2 separate regions of the Homo sapiens genome follow, and region 1 is linked to region 2. A link means that fine-mapping ties the variant in region 2 to the plasma level of a protein whose gene starts in the linked region. Region 2 holds a variant in brackets. A gene starts in the other region. All regions are shown on their reverse strands.

Region 1 (8,325 bases), not on the chromosome of region 2:
CATAGAGAGGTGGGGCCTAGGCCCCAGCTTGTGGCCGACCCCGCCCATCCTCGAGCAGGTACCAGGGCCACGTGGGTGCATCGCTGATCGTGGGCGGCGTAGACCTGACTGGACCGCAGCTCTACGGTGTGCATCCCCATGGCTCCTACAGCCGTCTGCCCTTCACAGCCCTGGGTGAGCGCTTCTGTCCCTTCTCCTCGAACTCTGCCCCTGTGACCTTGGCCTCACTCCAAACGGCGTCGCAGCGGTTGACTTCAGATGCTTCTCCTGCCTTCAGGCTCTGGTCAGGACGCGGCCCTGGCGGTGCTAGAAGACCGGTTCCAGCCGAACATGACGGTGAGCGGCCTCTGTCCCCGACTTTGTGGTCGCTGGTGGGATGTGCACCCGGGAGCTGGGGGAGCACAGGACCCTGGCCCAGTGCGGGTGGCTAAGGCTTGTCGGAGGAGGTGACCACTGAAGGGTGAGTGGAGTAAGGGCAGAGAAGTGCGGTCCCGACATAACACCGTCCAATACCAAAGCCTGCACGGCTGGGAGAAGTCGAAGCTCACAGAGGATCTTTAGGAGCCGAGGGCGGAGAGAAGGACCAGTAGGGTCCTACTTATATCAACGTCTGGAGCCTAGATTTTGTTTGGGGTGGGATGGAAGCAGGTGATGTTGCCTCAGAGGTGGCTAAGGCTCAGAGGGAGAAACACAGTGGGGGTTTGGAGGGCAAGACCAGATTGGGTAAGTGGACAGGCAAGTCCCCAGGCTGTAGCCTAAGTTAACAGCAGAGAGAGCCCGTTAGGTCTCACACACCCATCACCGCAGCTGGAGGCTGCTCAGGGGCTGCTGGTGGAAGCCGTCACCGCCGGGATCTTGGGTGACCTGGGCTCCGGGGGCAATGTGGACGCATGTGTGATCACAAAGACTGGCGCCAAGCTGCTGCGGACACTGAGCTCACCCACAGAGCCCGTGAAGAGGTGAGAGCTGGAGATCGGGGACCACAGGGATGTGTGGGGCTATAGCAGGGGAGATAGGGGGCTGCAAAAAGGGGATGGGCCACATGACAGGCCCATGTTCAGAGGCTGTCCCTCCTCCCTCCCAGGTCTGGCCGCTACCACTTTGTGCCTGGAACCACAGCTGTCCTGACCCAGACAGTGAAGCCACTAACCCTGGAGCTAGTGGAGGAAACTGTGCAGGCTATGGAGGTGGAGTAAGCTGAGGCTTAGAGCTTGGAACAAGGGGGAATAAACCCAGAAAATACAGTTAAACAGATGGCTGTGTCATTCTTGAGTGGAATGGGGTGGGCAGGCAGCCAGCAGGGCTCTGTAGCTAAGGCGTCCCTGCAGGGGCCATTACCTACCATAGCTCTAGTGTCTGGCCTAAGAGATGCCCTTCACCCATAACCTCAGGCACCTACAACTCCAGAACCCCAGCCCTGGCCAGCATTGCAGGCTTGGTCTCCACCCAAACCTTCCTTCTGACTCCACACTTGAAGGCTCCCCCACCACTCCACTGTCTTGCTCTTGCCCTCTAGTCCACTGGAGACTTGTAAATTATGAAATACCCCATGTACTACCCCCTCCTAGAGACTTTCCATGGCTCCTCAGTGGCCCAGGACAAAGCTCATACCTTTCAATCAGGCCCCCACAGGCCCCACTGAGGGCTAAAGTGCTGACAAGAGGAGCCGCTCCCTGACTCCAAGGCAAGTTCTCACCAAGCACTCCTCAACCTCGCAACATCTTTACCTGTGACACCCCTTAGATGACGAGGCATGCCTGCACTGCTCACGTGAAGCTCGTCTTCTGTCTGCACATGCTGGGCTTGTGACTCCAAGTTTTCCAGGCTAATAAGGGTCACAGGACTCACATGGGGAGAGATGACACGTTTCTCCAACAAACCTTTGCTGGGCCCCTGCTGAGTCTCAGGCCTGGCTGCTGGGTGCCAGCAAGAGCATCCTGTCCTCAGCGAGAACGGCTGAACTCCGCTGGAGCTTCAGAAATGTCAGGGAGAGTCTACCCAGGGCCCAGGGAGGGTCTATGCCGGGCTGCACATCCCCAGGCCGCTGAGTGTGCTCCCTGCACCCCAACATTCTATTAATGAACATTTGTAAATGTAACAGAAAAGTAGAAAGAGTTGTATATTGAATACCCTTATACTGTCAGGTCACCACAGACCTGACAGTATTTTGTTATATTTGTTTTATCATCTATTCATCCCTCTATCCATTAATTCATCGCTCCTTTTTTTTTTTTTTTTTTTTTTTTTGAGACGGCGTCTCGCTCTGTCACCCAGGCTCTGGAGTGCAAATATTTTGTTATATTTGTTTTATCATCTATTCATCCCTCTATCCATTAATTCATCGCTCCTTTTTTTTTTTTTTTTTTTTGAGACGGAGTCTCGCTCTGTCACCCAGGCTCTGGAGTGCAGTGGCGCAATCTCAGCTCACTGGAAGCTCCGCCTCCCAGGTTCACGCCATTCTCCTGCCTCAGCCTCCCGAGTAGCTGGGACTACAGGTGCCCGCCACCACGCCCGGCTAATTTTTTTTTTTTTTGTATTTTTAGTAGAGACGAGGTTTCTACTGAACCTGTTAGCCAGGATGGTCTTGATCTCCTGACCTCATGATCCGCCCGCGTCGGCCTCCCAAAGTGCTGGGATTACAGGCGTGAGCCACCGTGCCCAGCCAATTCATCTCATTTTTTGGCTGATGCTGTTTCTTTGAGATGGGGTCTAGCTCCATCGCCCAGGCCGGAATGCAGTGGTGCACTCATGGCTCACTGCAGCCTTGAACTTAAGGGCTCAAGTGATCCCTCCTGCCTCAGCCTTCTGAGTTGCTGGGACTACAGGTGTGTACCATCATACCCAGCTCATTTCTTAATTTAAAAAAATTTTTTTTGTAGAGACAGGGTTTCATGATGTTGCTCAGGCTGGTCTCGAACTCCTGGAATCAAGCCTCCTACGTCTGCCTCCCAAAGTTTTGGGATTACAGGTGTGAGCCACCACACCCAGCCCTGATCTGTTCTTGAATCAGTTAAAGCCCTCACACTCCCAGAAGGCCGCCAGCCAATGCACCTGTTGGAACTTTGCACACAGGGTGTCTTCTCCCTTCAAGCTTGGTCTGCAGCTCAGTAACAAATGGGCTACAGACACCAGGGGCTTGCCCATGGGAGCCCCAAGGCCTAAAGAGGGTGGCAGAGATTTGATGTCTGTCACTCTCCACCTGCAGCCTCAGTCCACGGTCGGCCAGGCACCAAGAGCTCACACTTTGCCCTCCTAAATGCCAGGCCCTTCATAAGTATCATCTCATTGTTAAGAGCGGAGGCTTCAGCGCCAGACAAATGCGAGTTTGTGTACAACTCAACCACGTGCTGGTGGGAGAGTCACCATCTCTGAGCAGACCTGTGACTCCTGTTCCAAATGGACGAGGAACCACTGCGATGATGTGTTAGGACTCCCAGCCTGCCAGAACCTCACAGCCCCTGGCCCTTCACAGCAAAGTTGACCGCAGTGAGCATTCCATCCACCAGTCAGAACACCCTGGACGCTGAGCGGCCTTCTCTGAAAGCCTGGTGCCTTTGTTAGCCCTGGGTGACTCCTGTGATCCCAGCCACCAGGTTGTCACTATAGACCTAATTTAACCATCTGTCCTCAGTACCGAGGGCTCAACATTTGGAATGGGAGGTGGTTCTGGGAGCCAATTAGAGGCCAGGCTTTGGGAGGTGGCAGAGGTGAGTCTCACACCTGGGCTCTGTCTGATAAGTCTAGGTCTCGGTCAGGGGACCTTGGCCTAAAGGGCCTGTCTTGCCTGGAGCGTGGGAGGGGGCTGAGTCTACACAGCTGGCCTGGCCTCAGGCCTGGAGCTTTAGCTCAAGGACGAGAAGACCCATAAAGCCAGACCCAGCTCCCAACCTCACATCTGCCACGATGTTGCTGCTCAGCCTGACCCTAAGCCTGGTTCTCCTCGGCTCCTCCTGGGGTGAGTGGGCCAGGACCAGCCCTGATTCAGCCCTGGGAGCAACTCAGCTCCCAGCAACAGCCCAGGGAAGGAGCTAGGCTGGCTGGAAGGGACGAAGGTGGACAGAGTGGGCAAAAGAAACAGGATATGCCAGGGCAGTGGAGCAGGGAACAGGCCTGCAGGGCTGGGAGGGGGCAAGAGGTGGGGTGGTCTCACAAATAGGACCAGAGATTGAGCCAGGCCCTGGAGCCCGGGAGGGTTTAGGAAGCTGAGACAGGAAGACCTGTCCATGTCTTTTAGAAAGAACCTTCTGGCTGCATGAAGGGTATGAACTGTTCAGGTCGGGAGGGGGCAGAGAGACCAGGGGTAGAGATGGGGAACAGCGGGGACTAGGCTGGAGACAGATGTAGGAGAACAGCAGGGCTGGGGGACTGGGTGGATAGGGATAACCAAGATAGCTGTGGGGCCCGAAGGTGCTTGCATGTACCCTGTTGGGGAAGGGGTAGTGCTGTACCCTCTCGACAGACCTCTCTGGGGTGCACAGCCTGGGGCACCCAAAAGGAGGTGGGGAAAGATGGGCTGAGGCATGGGAAGCAGGTCCTCATTAGCCCAATGGCCAGGCTGCGGCATTCCTGCCATCAAACCGGCACTGAGCTTCAGCCAGAGGATTGTCAACGGGGAGAATGCAGTGTTGGGCTCCTGGCCCTGGCAGGTGTCCCTGCAGGTACACCACCAGAGGGGTGGGCAGGGTCCTGGGTACGTCATGCCTAGGGGCAGCCTCAGCAGCCCACCCCCACTCTGACCTCTGAGCCCTGACCACAGGACAGCAGCGGCTTCCACTTCTGCGGTGGTTCTCTCATCAGCCAGTCCTGGGTGGTCACTGCTGCCCACTGCAATGTCAGGTGAGTGCCTGCATTCCACCTGCCCCGCCCCTCGCCTCTTCCTGCCTCCTCCCCTGGCTGTCCCCCTCTCGCGCTGGCCTCCCTGCAGCTGCCTAATCCCACCCCCTTGCAGCCCTGGCCGCCATTTTGTTGTCCTGGGCGAGTATGACCGATCATCAAACGCAGAGCCCTTGCAGGTTCTGTCCGTCTCTCGGGTGAGTGCCTGGGCTGCAGACACGGAGGAAAAGTGGGCAGTGCAGGTGGGTGGGTGCTGGGAACGAGGAATTCAGGACATGCCCTGGCCTACCCTGCTCAGCACCCATCAGAACATGGACTGTTTCTGACCCCACAGGCCATTACACACCCTAGCTGGAACTCTACCACCATGAACAATGACGTGACGCTGCTGAAGCTCGCCTCGCCAGCCCAGTACACAACACGCATCTCGCCAGTTTGCCTGGCATCCTCAAACGAGGCTCTGACTGAAGGCCTCACGTGTGTCACCACCGGCTGGGGTCGCCTCAGTGGCGTGGGTAGGGACTCAGGCCAAAGCTCAGGGTGGGAGGACTGGGGTGGGGACCAGTGTTCTGGGCCCCATGTGACCACCCCTCCTGGCCCACAGGCAATGTGACACCAGCACATCTGCAGCAGGTGGCTTTGCCCCTGGTCACTGTGAATCAGTGCCGGCAGTACTGGGGCTCAAGTATCACTGACTCCATGATCTGTGCAGGTGGCGCAGGTGCCTCCTCGTGCCAGGTAAGCCCCAGCACCCGCTCCTCTGCGCTGTCCTGTGGTATACCTCCCCAACCCCCCCTACTCAATTCTCCCTCCCTCTTCCCTCTCAGGGTGACTCCGGAGGCCCTCTTGTCTGCCAGAAGGGAAACACATGGGTGCTTATTGGTATTGTCTCCTGGGGCACCAAAAACTGCAATGTGCGCGCACCTGCTGTGTATACTCGAGTTAGCAAGTTCAGCACCTGGATCAACCAGGTCATAGCCTACAACTGAGCTCACCACAGGCCCTCCCCAGCTCAACCCATTAAAGACCCAGGCCCTGTCCCATCATGCATTCATGTCTGTCTTCCTGGCTCAGGAGAAAGAAGAGGCTGTTGAGGGTCCGACTCCCTACTTGGACTTCTGGCACAGAAGGGGCTGAGTGACTCCTTGAGTAGCAGTGGCTCTTCCTAGAGTAGCCATGCCGAGGCCGGGGCCCCCACCCCTCCTCCAGGGCAACCCCTTGGTCCTACAGCAAGAAGCCAGAACTGTTGGAATGAATGGCAGCCCTCCCTGGAGAGGCAGCCTGTTTACTGAATACAGAGGATACGTTTACAAACTGAATACGCATAATAAATAACTGCACATTCTCCATCCACAGGCCATGGCATGAAGGCCCAAGTGGGTCTATCAAAGGCCCACATCTCCAAACCCCCTGTCCTGCCCTCAGGACCAGGCCCACCCTGGGCAAGAGAGAACGTAAGCCCCAGGGCTTCAGGTCCCCAGAGACACTTGGGGAACTGGGGGGAAATTCTGAGGCCATGGGGCTTGGTTCTCCACTGCCTCCTGCCCAGGGGGCATTGGGGACGGTAGGAGGATGTGTCTAAGGCATAGTCGACTTGGCACAGAGTGGTCTCTTTAGTTTTGTTTCCCACTGGAGGTGGCACATGCAGGAAAAGGGCCTGGCCCAGGCTGCCGACCGGCAGAAGCTGAGTGGGAACCAAACCCTCCTGCAATGGCAGGGGCCCTGCCGTCAAGCTAAGGCCAAAGCTGGGCCCTGGCCCCATTCTACCCACTGAAGGCAGCTGTGGAGGAAGGGGCTTGGGTTCCAGCCTGGTTTGTGGTAGGGGGAGATACCACAAAAGAAATGGGGATGGTTCTGGCTCAGGCCTCTGGGAAAGCAGCCACCCAACCCCACCCACCTCCCGCAGGGGCTCCTTCCAGCTTGAGGCTCAGTGGGACCCAGACTGGAAGGTTAATGCTGTGAAGGGAAGCAGCACAGGGTGGACGGGGCAAGGCCAGCTGTGAGAAGGCAGTGCCCCTGGCACCCTGGTTTCAGAGGCAGGTCACACAGTATGGCTAAGTTCCAGGGAGGGGTGCGCAGAAGCTCAGCAGAAGGGGAGAGGTGAGCAGCCCGGGACCCTCCCCCAGGGCGGCAACTCCTACCTTCCCATGTCCTCATGGAGGACTACAGGTGTGCACCATGGGTGGGTGTGCACGATGGGCAGGTGTGCACGATGGGCGTGCAGTGATCACTCCCAGGCTGCCAACACCCATGCAGACACCAGATGGCGCCTTCGTGCAGCTGCAGAGGAGGGAGCAACAGAGCCTGAAGGGAAAAGGCAATGGGGCTGCACCAAAGGATAGAACCCAGGCTGACACTCGACCCTAATCGGGAGGACCCCCTTCCCTCTGCCTTGGCCCCCAGGTGCCCCATTCCCCAGGTAGCAGCAGTGGGGCTCCCTTTAACCACCCCCAGTTGGGAAGGAGGCACCTGGGGAATGGAATGGACATCCAACGGGGAGAGGGAGGTAGCGGTGGGCTCTACAAAGAAGGCACCAAGGGCGGTGGGCTGAGACCCCTCAGAATCTGGAGAGGCTGGAGCCTGGGCAAGCCGATGACCAGCATGGCCACACAGTCCAGAAGGGTGAAGGTCCACGCCATGGCCCTCCACCAGAGGTCCTGGGACCAGGAAGGCTCCCTGGAGGCACCATGAAGGAAGACAGATCTTGGCTGGGAGGTGGAGGGCTGTTTCGACCTAGCCAGGGGCTACGGGTCCAGTCAAGGCACAAGCTTTGTGCCTACCAGGGTCTCCCACTGGAGCATAATCTTAAGGATCAGGATGCATGGGAATGTGTGAAACCAGGGAGAAGGGCTCTGTGGAGGAAAGGGGGTCCCAGAAGTAACTGTCCCAAAGGGTCCTGAGGCCACAGGACACTCCACCCAGCACTGCAGTTCCCTTTGATTGGGGAAAAGTCAAAGGGCAAGGGAGACAGTGAAGGCCAGGTCCTATCCCTTCCCAACTCCACCAGAGCAGCTGCCCACCAAGAGGGGTATCAGTGCCAGGCCAGGCTCCCAGTTCAGGGGGAGTCACAGCCCCCTGTGCTACCTCTACTCTGTCACACCTGGCCCAGGCCCATGGTGAGGACAGGGGCTGCTGAAGGCACAGAGAAAGGGCTGGAGCCAGACATTCTTCACCTACTGTGGGCCACATAGGCCTATCTCCAGAGAGGGCATCGGACCCAGATGGCACCACAGTGTGTGGCCAGGCTGGGTCGTGCTGCATGTGTGCACAGCCAGGCGGCTCAGCCATTGTATTGCTGCTGGTAGCGCAGGTTGAGCTCCCGCAGCTCCCGTTCCCGCACACGGCGTGACTTATTGGAGCGTGTGGAGCGGCTGGAACGCGTGGACTGGGCAGATTTGGTGCTCTGGCAGCGCGAGGAGGCACGTTTAAGGAGGTTCTGGGATATGGAGCGGTGCAGGTTCTTCATGGATGAAGAGGCAGCCATGCTCACCA
Region 2 (8,328 bases):
AAACTTCATATATCAGATGATAGATTTAGCAGTCTTTGTCTAAAGATTCACATTACAGAATTTATGGTCTATTAATTTATTTAGAGATGGGATCTCACTCTGTCACCCAGGCTGGAATGGAGTGGCACAGTCATAGCTCACTGCAACCTCAGACTCATGGACTTAAGCAATCCTCCTGCCTCAGCCTCCTGAGTAACTAGGACTACAGATGTGTACCACCACACCCAGCTAATTTTTTAAATGTTTTGTAGAGACAGTGTGTTGCTGTATTGCCCAGGTTGGTCTCCTGGGTTCAAGCAGTCCTCCTGCCTCAGCCTCCCCAAGTGCTCAGATTACAGGTGTGAGCTACCTGTAAACCCAGGCCAGTCCTTTTTTTTTTTTTTTTTTTAATGACAGAGTCTTGCTCCATTGCCCAGGCTGGACTGCAGTGGTACAATCTTGGCTCACTGCAACCTCCGCCTCCCAGGTTCAAGCAATCCTCCTGCCTCAGCCCCCCTAGTAGCTGGGATTACAGGTACGTGCCACCATGCCCGGCTAATTTTTGTATTTTTAGTAGAGATGGGGTTTTGCCATGTTGGCCAGGCTGGTCTCGAACTCCTGACCTCAGGTGATTCACCCGCCTCGGCCTCCCAAAGTGCTGGGATTACAGGCATGAGCCACCACACCAGGCCCTTTTTTTTTTCTCTTTTGTTTTTTAATCAGATTACTGTTAGTTATTTCCCCTCTTGCCTCACTTCATGTCAGTTGAAATGTTGGAATACAGCATCTGAAAGTGCTGTCCACTGCCTTTCAGCTGTGCTGCTGGCTCTGAACTTTGCCCAAGGTGAACTTGCCTTTATCGGGTTGGGGTGGCTTGGGGTCTGGGTGACCCCTGAAGTCAGAATCAGAAGTGGCCACATTCGTGACTTGTGGTCTTCTGAGTATAAGAAATGTCCCCATTTGGATATCCTCACAGCCTCATGAAAGTAAGATTTTATTGAGTAGACCTGCTCATGGAAGGTGGGTAGTTTCCAAGTAGCACTGGTACACACCAAGTGAAATAACTGGTAATCCTGGCTGTCAGCGGAGCCAGGTCAACATGCTGGTATACGTGCTGTTTTTCCTTTGAGCTTTAAGTTCTTATGTACACATAACCAATCCAACCTACTTTTCATTAACACCATGTTAGGTATTATTTTCTTAGATTGATATTTTTCTTTTAAAGAAAAAAAAATCATAGGGTGGATTTTAAAATATTATTATTGAAACCAATGATTTCTTCTTTGATTTTAGATGGAAACCCAGAAGGGACCTTCCCCATCTTCTCTCTCTCTCTCTTTCTCTCTCTCTCTCTCTTTTTCTCCCTCTCCTTTCCTCTCCTCTCCTCTCCCCTCCCCTCCTCCCCTCGCCCCTCCCCTCCCTTCCCCCTCTCCTTCCTTCCTTCCTTCCTTCCTTCCTTCCTTTCCTTCTTTCCTTCTTTCTCTTTTCTTTCTTCTTTCTTTCTTGACAAGGTCTCACTCTGTCACCCAGGCTGGAGTGCAGTGGCATGATCTCGGTTCACTGCAACCTCCACCTCCCGGGTTCAAGTGATTCTTCTATGTCAGCCTCCCAAGTAGCTGGGATTACGGGCACCCACCACCACGCCCAGCTAATTTTTGTATTTTTAGTAAAGATGGGGTTTCACCATGTTGGCCAGGATGGTCTCAAACTCCTGACCTCAGGTGATCCACCCACCTCGACCTCCCAGAGTGCTGGGATTACAGGTGTGAGCCATGAGGCCCAGCTAATTTTTGTATTTTTTTGTAGGGACAGTATATCACCATGTTGCCCAGGCTGGTGTCGAACTCCTGGGCTCAAGCGATCCTCCTGCCTTAGCCTTCCAAGTGTGTGGAACATATATTTCTATGGACGTATTTTGCATCTGTAACTGCTTTGAAATATGTAGGTCTTCTTTTACACCTGCCAAAGTGTTGGATACACATTTCCTGAGGCCTTTCATATCATTCAGTCCATAAAATTACATAGTCCATCGGATCCTCTCAATGCACTGGTTGTAGCTCTGACAGTTTTCCTGAGGAAACCAGTCAGTTTGGGTTGCTGAATGCAGCCTATATAAGCACAAATTATGAGATCATGGTAAGAATGAAGGCAGGGTAGCAGGGTGGTTAAGAGCCTAGGATTTGAGGTCAGAAAGCTCAGGGCTTCCATTTGTACTTTGCCTCCTTCTTGGTGGCAAAGTAATGCTTGGCTTTTTTAAGGCTTGAATTCCTCATAAGTAAAAATGACAAAAATGATGAAATCCAGTAGTTTTTGTGGTAAGATGTAAATGAGAAATAAAGTACTCAGTATCATGTCAGAGAAAGAAAGTACTCAACGTGTCATCAAAAGTGAATATGGAGGTTGGGCGCAGTGGCTCACACCTGTAATCCCAGCACTTTGGGAGGCTGAGGCAGGTGGATCACTTGTCATCAGGAGTTCAAGACCAGCCTGGCCAACATGGTGAAACCCTGTCTCTACTAAAAATACAAAAAATTAACTGGGCAAGGTGGTACACGCCTGTAATCCCAGCTACTCTGGAGGCTGAGGCAGGAGAATTGCTTGAACCCAGGAGACGGAAGTTGCAGTGAGCCAAGATCGTGCCACTGCACTCCAGCCTGGGTGACAAAGTGACACTCCATCTCAAAAAAAAAAAAAAAAAAGTGATTATGGGCTTTGTGACTTGGGATCTTAAGTGAAAGACACATCTTCCTTAGTGGAATTTTAGAAGACATACGAAAGTTTCTGTTTTTGGGTTTTGTTTCTGACACCAGTTCTATCCTAGTCACATACACTATTAGAGACCTTATAGAAGACCTCATAGGATTCATATAATTAAACAGCATCATAAAGTGATTTGTGGCTGGGCACGGTGGCTTAACACCTGAAATCCTAGCACTTTGAAAGGCTGAAGCAAGAGGATCACTTGAGGGCAGGAGTTTGAGACCAGCCTGCACAATATAGTGACACTCTATCTCTTAAATAATAAATGAAATAATAAATAATGAGGAATAAGGAATAAATAATTATTAATAATAATAAATCCAAAAATAAAGTGATTTGCTTTTTTTCTCATCCTTATTGTACATGGTTAACAAAGCATGTAATAGCACAAAGATTGAATTTCATGCTATACTGTCTGCCTCTAATCAGACATAATTATTTTTAAGAATGTACAAAAAATTGGGGGTGGTAGTATTACCAGCTTGCCTAATAACTCCTAACAGAATCTTTAAAAGACACTATTTGCCATTTGTCACTCTCTTGCTTTCCTACAAAACTCACTGGCTTGTTGAGGAAACATTATATTAATGAGTTACTTTGGTCCTTTGAAGCTTATCCATCAGGCTGATTGAATAGAAATACGTACTCAGTACTTTGTGAGAAATGAACATATTTTTCTGAAAGTGAGGCTAGAGTAATGTTCACATGTGGTACAAATAACAGATGCTTGGGACTCAGCCTCAGTGACAGTTAACAAGCAATTTATGTTCTGGCCATGCGGGGGGGAGGACACAAAACAAATCACACCCTCAGTTTTTGTATTTATTTTTTCTCAATCAAGGTATCATCTGACCCTTTCCATTTGGCAAGTGTGGGCATTTTCCATTACAACATTCTGTTTTAAACACCTTCACTACCCCATTGAACTCATTCGATACCACAACATGGAATACTTCTAATGACTCACATTTACAAGAATATGTTTATAATGATAAAAAATATTTGCTAACAGATTTCAGAAAGGATTCGTAAATTATTGACAGATAACTAATGACTCTAAGGCATCTTTGCCAAAATCCAAAAAGTATTCAACAATGTCACCTGAACCCATATTGCATGATGATGTTAAAGTTTAGTTAATGAATTACAGTCAGTGTAAACTTCGTGACAACACTATTCCAAGACATTATGACATATCTATTAGGAATTGATATTCCTGCAAAATTGGATTTATCATTAACCCCTTGCATGAACAAACTAGAAAGGCCCTTTCAGTATGTTTATAATATGGGTTTATTAACAACAAACACCTTAAAATTTTCATCATTCAAATAGACTGATTGCATCAGATATGGAGGAGTTTTTAACAGAAGTCTTATAAGTACTGAACCAGTTAGTTACTGCCAAAGCATTGCTTAGTAGTGCATTTTTGCTTGTACCCTTTGCTAACATAGGCATTTGTCACTGATTTTGTACAGAACCTGAGCTAGGGTTGGCACTTTTTATTTTTTATCAACTTTCTTAATAATCCTCTCCTCTGCCAAATTATATAAGATGATGGAATGGTACATTTTGGAAAGGAGTGACTGAGTAAAGATTTCTTCTCATTCTTTTAAATAACTGTGAGAAATGTGGCACCTGGCAGGAAAGATAAGTGACTTTTACACAATACGATTATGGCCAGGTAAATATTACTCACTTTTTATAACACCAATAATTAAACAGAGCCTTAGTCAATCTTTTGGCAATTGAATGTTTAAGACTTTACTCTCTTGTAGGCTTGTGCTGAGTTCCCCA[T/C]GTTTATCACAATCTATGATCTGTGTCTGATGGCTCATAGTTCATATCTTTATTTAGAGTACAAGAAATAAACTCAATATCATTTTGTTTCAATTTAAGGCCTTTAAAGACATTTAAGCAAACAACTAAATGATCTAAATTGTTTTTAAAAGAGGAAACTGTAGCATATCCAAAGTGATTTCCCTAGGAATCACAGCATAATTATTATTAAAACACAAAGCAACAAAATAGATCTCAAGCATTTTTTTTTTTTTTTGAGACAAAGTCTTGTTCTGTTGTCCAGGCTACAGTGCAGCCGCACAATCTCGGCTCACTGCAACCTCCATCTCCTGGGTTCAACCTATTCCCCTGCCTCAGTTTCCCAAGTAGCTGGGACTGCAGGCACATGTCACCATACCCGGCTAATTTTTGTATTTTTCGTAGAGATAGGGTTTTGCCATGTTGGCCAAGCTGGTCTCAAACTCCTGACCTCAGGTTATCCACCTGCCTTGGCCTCCCAAAGTGCTGGGATTACAGGCATGAGCCACCACACCCAGCCATCTCAGGCACTCTTAATTCATGAAACTGGATGTTATATATTACCTAATAGTCTGGCAGACTACATAAATAAAACAATCATTCAAATAATAGATTTTCCTCTAGACTGAAATATTTCATATGGGTGAAACTTACATGGGGCTATATAACTCAATTTTGATTTATGTTTCAGTGATTTTAATCAACTTTTTTTTTTGCCCTCTCAGTCTTTTGCGAAATAAGAAAATACAAATAATATTATTTTTAATAAAAAAAAATGTATCTGGGCATGATGGCTCACACCTGTAATCCCAGCACTTTGGGAGGCTTAGGCAGGAGAATAACTTGAGCCCAAGAGTTCAAGACCAGCCTGAACAACATAATGAGACCTCATCTCTATAAAAAATAAACAAAATTAGCTATATGGTGGCACACACCATGTTGGCCAGGCTGGTCTCAAACTCTTGACCTCAAGTAATCCACCGGCCTCGGCTCCCAAAGTGCTGGATAACAGGCGTGAGCCAACACGCCCAGCCAATTAACTCTTTCCTTTTTGGTTTTATCCTTTCTTTCTTAAATATAATAGAACATATAACATATCTGCATTTATGCTATTTTGACTAATCACAGATCTACAGGTGTGTGGCACAGGTGTGTGCCAGCGTTTTACATGGTGAAACCCTGGCTCTACTAAAAATACAAAAATTAGCTAGGTGTGTTGGTGTGCACCTATAATCCCAGCCATTTGGGAGGCTGAGGCACGAGAACTGCTTGAACACAGGAGGCGGATGTGGCCACTGCACTCCAACCTGGGTGACAAAGCATCTCAAAAAAAAAAAAAAGAAAAGAAAAAGAAAAAGAAAGAAAGAGTTAATTAAAAGACACTGAGGATACTTAAAAAGGTCACTTTATACTATATGAAATTGTAAAACCAAAAAGAGTTTCAAAAACATAGGCTCAGTTTCTACCTTTTTTATTTCCATGAATCTGACAACTTATACCCTCAAGCATTATTTTGATACTAAATATTAGCATTTTAGATTTTCCTGATCCGTTTGCATTTTTCAGAAGGTCACGACCTATCCACTTTTTCTATATTTACCTAATAATTTTTTTAAAAAGAGGCTTATGTGGTGGCTCATGCCTGTAATCCTAGCACTTTGGGAGGCCGAGGTGGGTGGATCACCTGAGTCGGGAGTTTGAGACCAGCCTGACCAACATGGAGAAAACTCATCTCTACTAAAAGTACAAAATTAGCTGGGCGTGGTGACACGTGCCTGTAATCCCAGCTACTTGGCAGGCTAAGGCAGGAGAATCGCTTGAACCCGGGAGGCAGAGGTTGCAGTGAGCCAAGATCGTGCCATTGCACTCCAGCCTGGGAAACGAGTGAAACTCTGTCTCAAAAAAAAAAAAAAAAATTGTGCCTTTTTGCTTTAAGACCATTTAGTATAATCTCAAGCTTTAAGATCATACTAAATGATCTTAAAACTTTATTTTACTTATACTAATATTAGGATACATTAGAATTGGAACAGCTCTGTAAATAGAAATGTGATTTTTGACTACATTTTCAAGCCTTCTTTACATCTGTACACTCACATATTATTTCTACACTTTTTTATCTTCATTTTTTCTTTTTGCCTTTTTAAAAAATAGAGATGAGGGTCTCACTATGTTGCCCAGGCTGGTCTCGAACTCCTGGCCTCAAGTGATCCTCCCATCTCAGCCTCCCAAAGTGCTAAAATTACAGGCATAAGCCACTGTGCCTGGCCATTTCTACACTTATTGAGCACATAATTATGCCAGACGCTCTTTTAAGTGCTTTACATACGTTCTATCACTTAGTTTAAAAAAAATTTATTTACCTCTATTTTATATATGAGAAAAATTAATGCTTGAAAATTTTAAGTAATTTGACCAATGCTACACAGATGGTATATGATTGATAGAGCTGGACTCAAATCCATGTCTGACTTCAATGCTATTATATTGCTTGAAATGCTATTATAATGCTTGACAAATTATTTTGTGAATTTAATGGTATGTATGCCTGGAACATGGCAGCCAATACATTTGCTATCAATATTAATATTGCTGGTATACACTGGAGAAACTCAAAGAACTGTAAACAGAGTTGGTAATGCACTGTGTCCTTATATATGTCCTTCAGTAAACATATGCATAATGCCCCAAATGAAACTCATTCATTTTCTTTTTTTTTTTCTTTTTGAGACGGGGTCTCCCTCTTGTTGCCCAGGCTGGAGGGCAATGGCACGATTTCAGCTCACTGCAACCTCTGCCTCCCAGGTTCAAATGATTGTCCTGCCTCAGCCTCCCGAGTAACTAGGATTACAGGCTCTTGCCACCACAACCAGCTGATTTTTTGTATTTTTAGTAGAGACAGGGTTTCACCATGTTGGGCAGGCTGGTCTCGAACTTTTGACCTCAGGTGATCCACCTGCCTTAGCCTCCGAAAGTGCTCGGATTACAGGTGTGAGCCACCATGCCTGGCCAGATATTTTTCATTTTGAATGCCACTTAAAAAAAAAAAAAAAGAATAATAGGCCGAGTGCAGTGCCTCATGTCTGTAATCTCAGCACTTTGGGAGGCTGAGGTGGGAGGATCACTTGAGCCCAAGAGTTCAAGGCTACAGTGAGCTACAGTGAGTACAGTGATTATGCCACTGTACTCCAGCCTGGGGGATATTGAGACCTTGTGTTGGAACAAAAAAAAGAGTGAAATATCAGGATTCATATTCTAGAAGGAAAAAAAGTGAAGTATTCATGGGAAGAATTTATTGTTGCATGAGCAATCAAGCAACTACATGAGTGAAAGAATCAAGCAAAAAAGGAGAAAATAAAGTATAAATTTATGATCACATTTATGCATTTATATAAAAGTCTGTATGCAAAAAAAGAGATTAAAACAATTTAGTGGACAAGCAAAAGGAAAGATACATGAATCACCTGTAATCCTGACATTCTGAGATCATGTTTTAAAGTATTTTCTTCTAGGAGATATCTGTGTATTTAAATATTTAAATATTGGCTGGTCGTGTAATTCCAGCACTTTGGGAGGCCAAAGCAGGACGACCACTTGAACCCAGGAATTCAAGAGCAGCCTGAACAGCAAAATGAGACCCCATCTCTACAAAAACTAAAAAAGTTAACCAGGTGTGATGGCATGAACCTGTGGTCCCAGCTAGGCAGGGGCCTAAGGCAGGAAGATTTTTTGAGCCTGGGAGGTTGAGGCTGCAGTGAGCCCTGTTCTCTCCAC

Direction of the effects. Positions count from the first base shown, and alleles are read on the strand shown. Strength reflects both the effect of a copy and how common the allele is.
For the plasma level of the protein whose gene starts at base 3,894 in region 1, allele T in region 2 goes with a lower level than allele C (weak association).

The links. PIP is the posterior inclusion probability: the model's chance that the variant is causal. Protein levels are from antibody-based Olink assays in UK Biobank. Linkage for the fine-mapping came from a reference panel and not from the study's own genotypes, which makes the PIPs less certain.
Region 1: CTRL starts here. The variant in region 2 is fine-mapped to the plasma level of the CTRL protein (UK Biobank, PIP 0.97).

What each region holds. Positions count from the first base shown.
Region 1 is chr16:67,927,431-67,935,755 of GRCh38, reverse strand. It overlaps CTRL (chymotrypsin like), which reads left to right and starts at 3,894. Exons shown (of 7, transcript NM_001907.3): 1 at 3,894-3,955; 2 at 4,555-4,658; 3 at 4,757-4,836; 4 at 4,949-5,030; 5 at 5,168-5,348; 6 at 5,438-5,571; 7 at 5,661-6,182. The coding sequence starts at 3,904. The coding sequence ends at 5,822. PSKH1 (protein serine kinase H1) reads right to left here. Exons shown (of 3, transcript NM_006742.3): 3 at 6,080-8,325. The coding sequence ends at 8,114. PSMB10 (proteasome 20S subunit beta 10) reads left to right here. Exons shown (of 8, transcript NM_002801.4): 5 at 59-174; 6 at 278-336; 7 at 808-959; 8 at 1,085-1,250. The coding sequence ends at 1,196. RefSeq lists enhancers at 137-336, 4,403-4,919, 4,920-5,437, 6,200-6,910, 8,283-8,325.
Region 2 is chr1:200,017,860-200,026,187 of GRCh38, reverse strand. No RefSeq gene overlaps it. Among named protein-coding and RNA genes, the nearest start is that of NR5A2, 5.7 kb to the left of the region's middle. The variant T/C (reference allele first, on the strand shown) is at 4,537.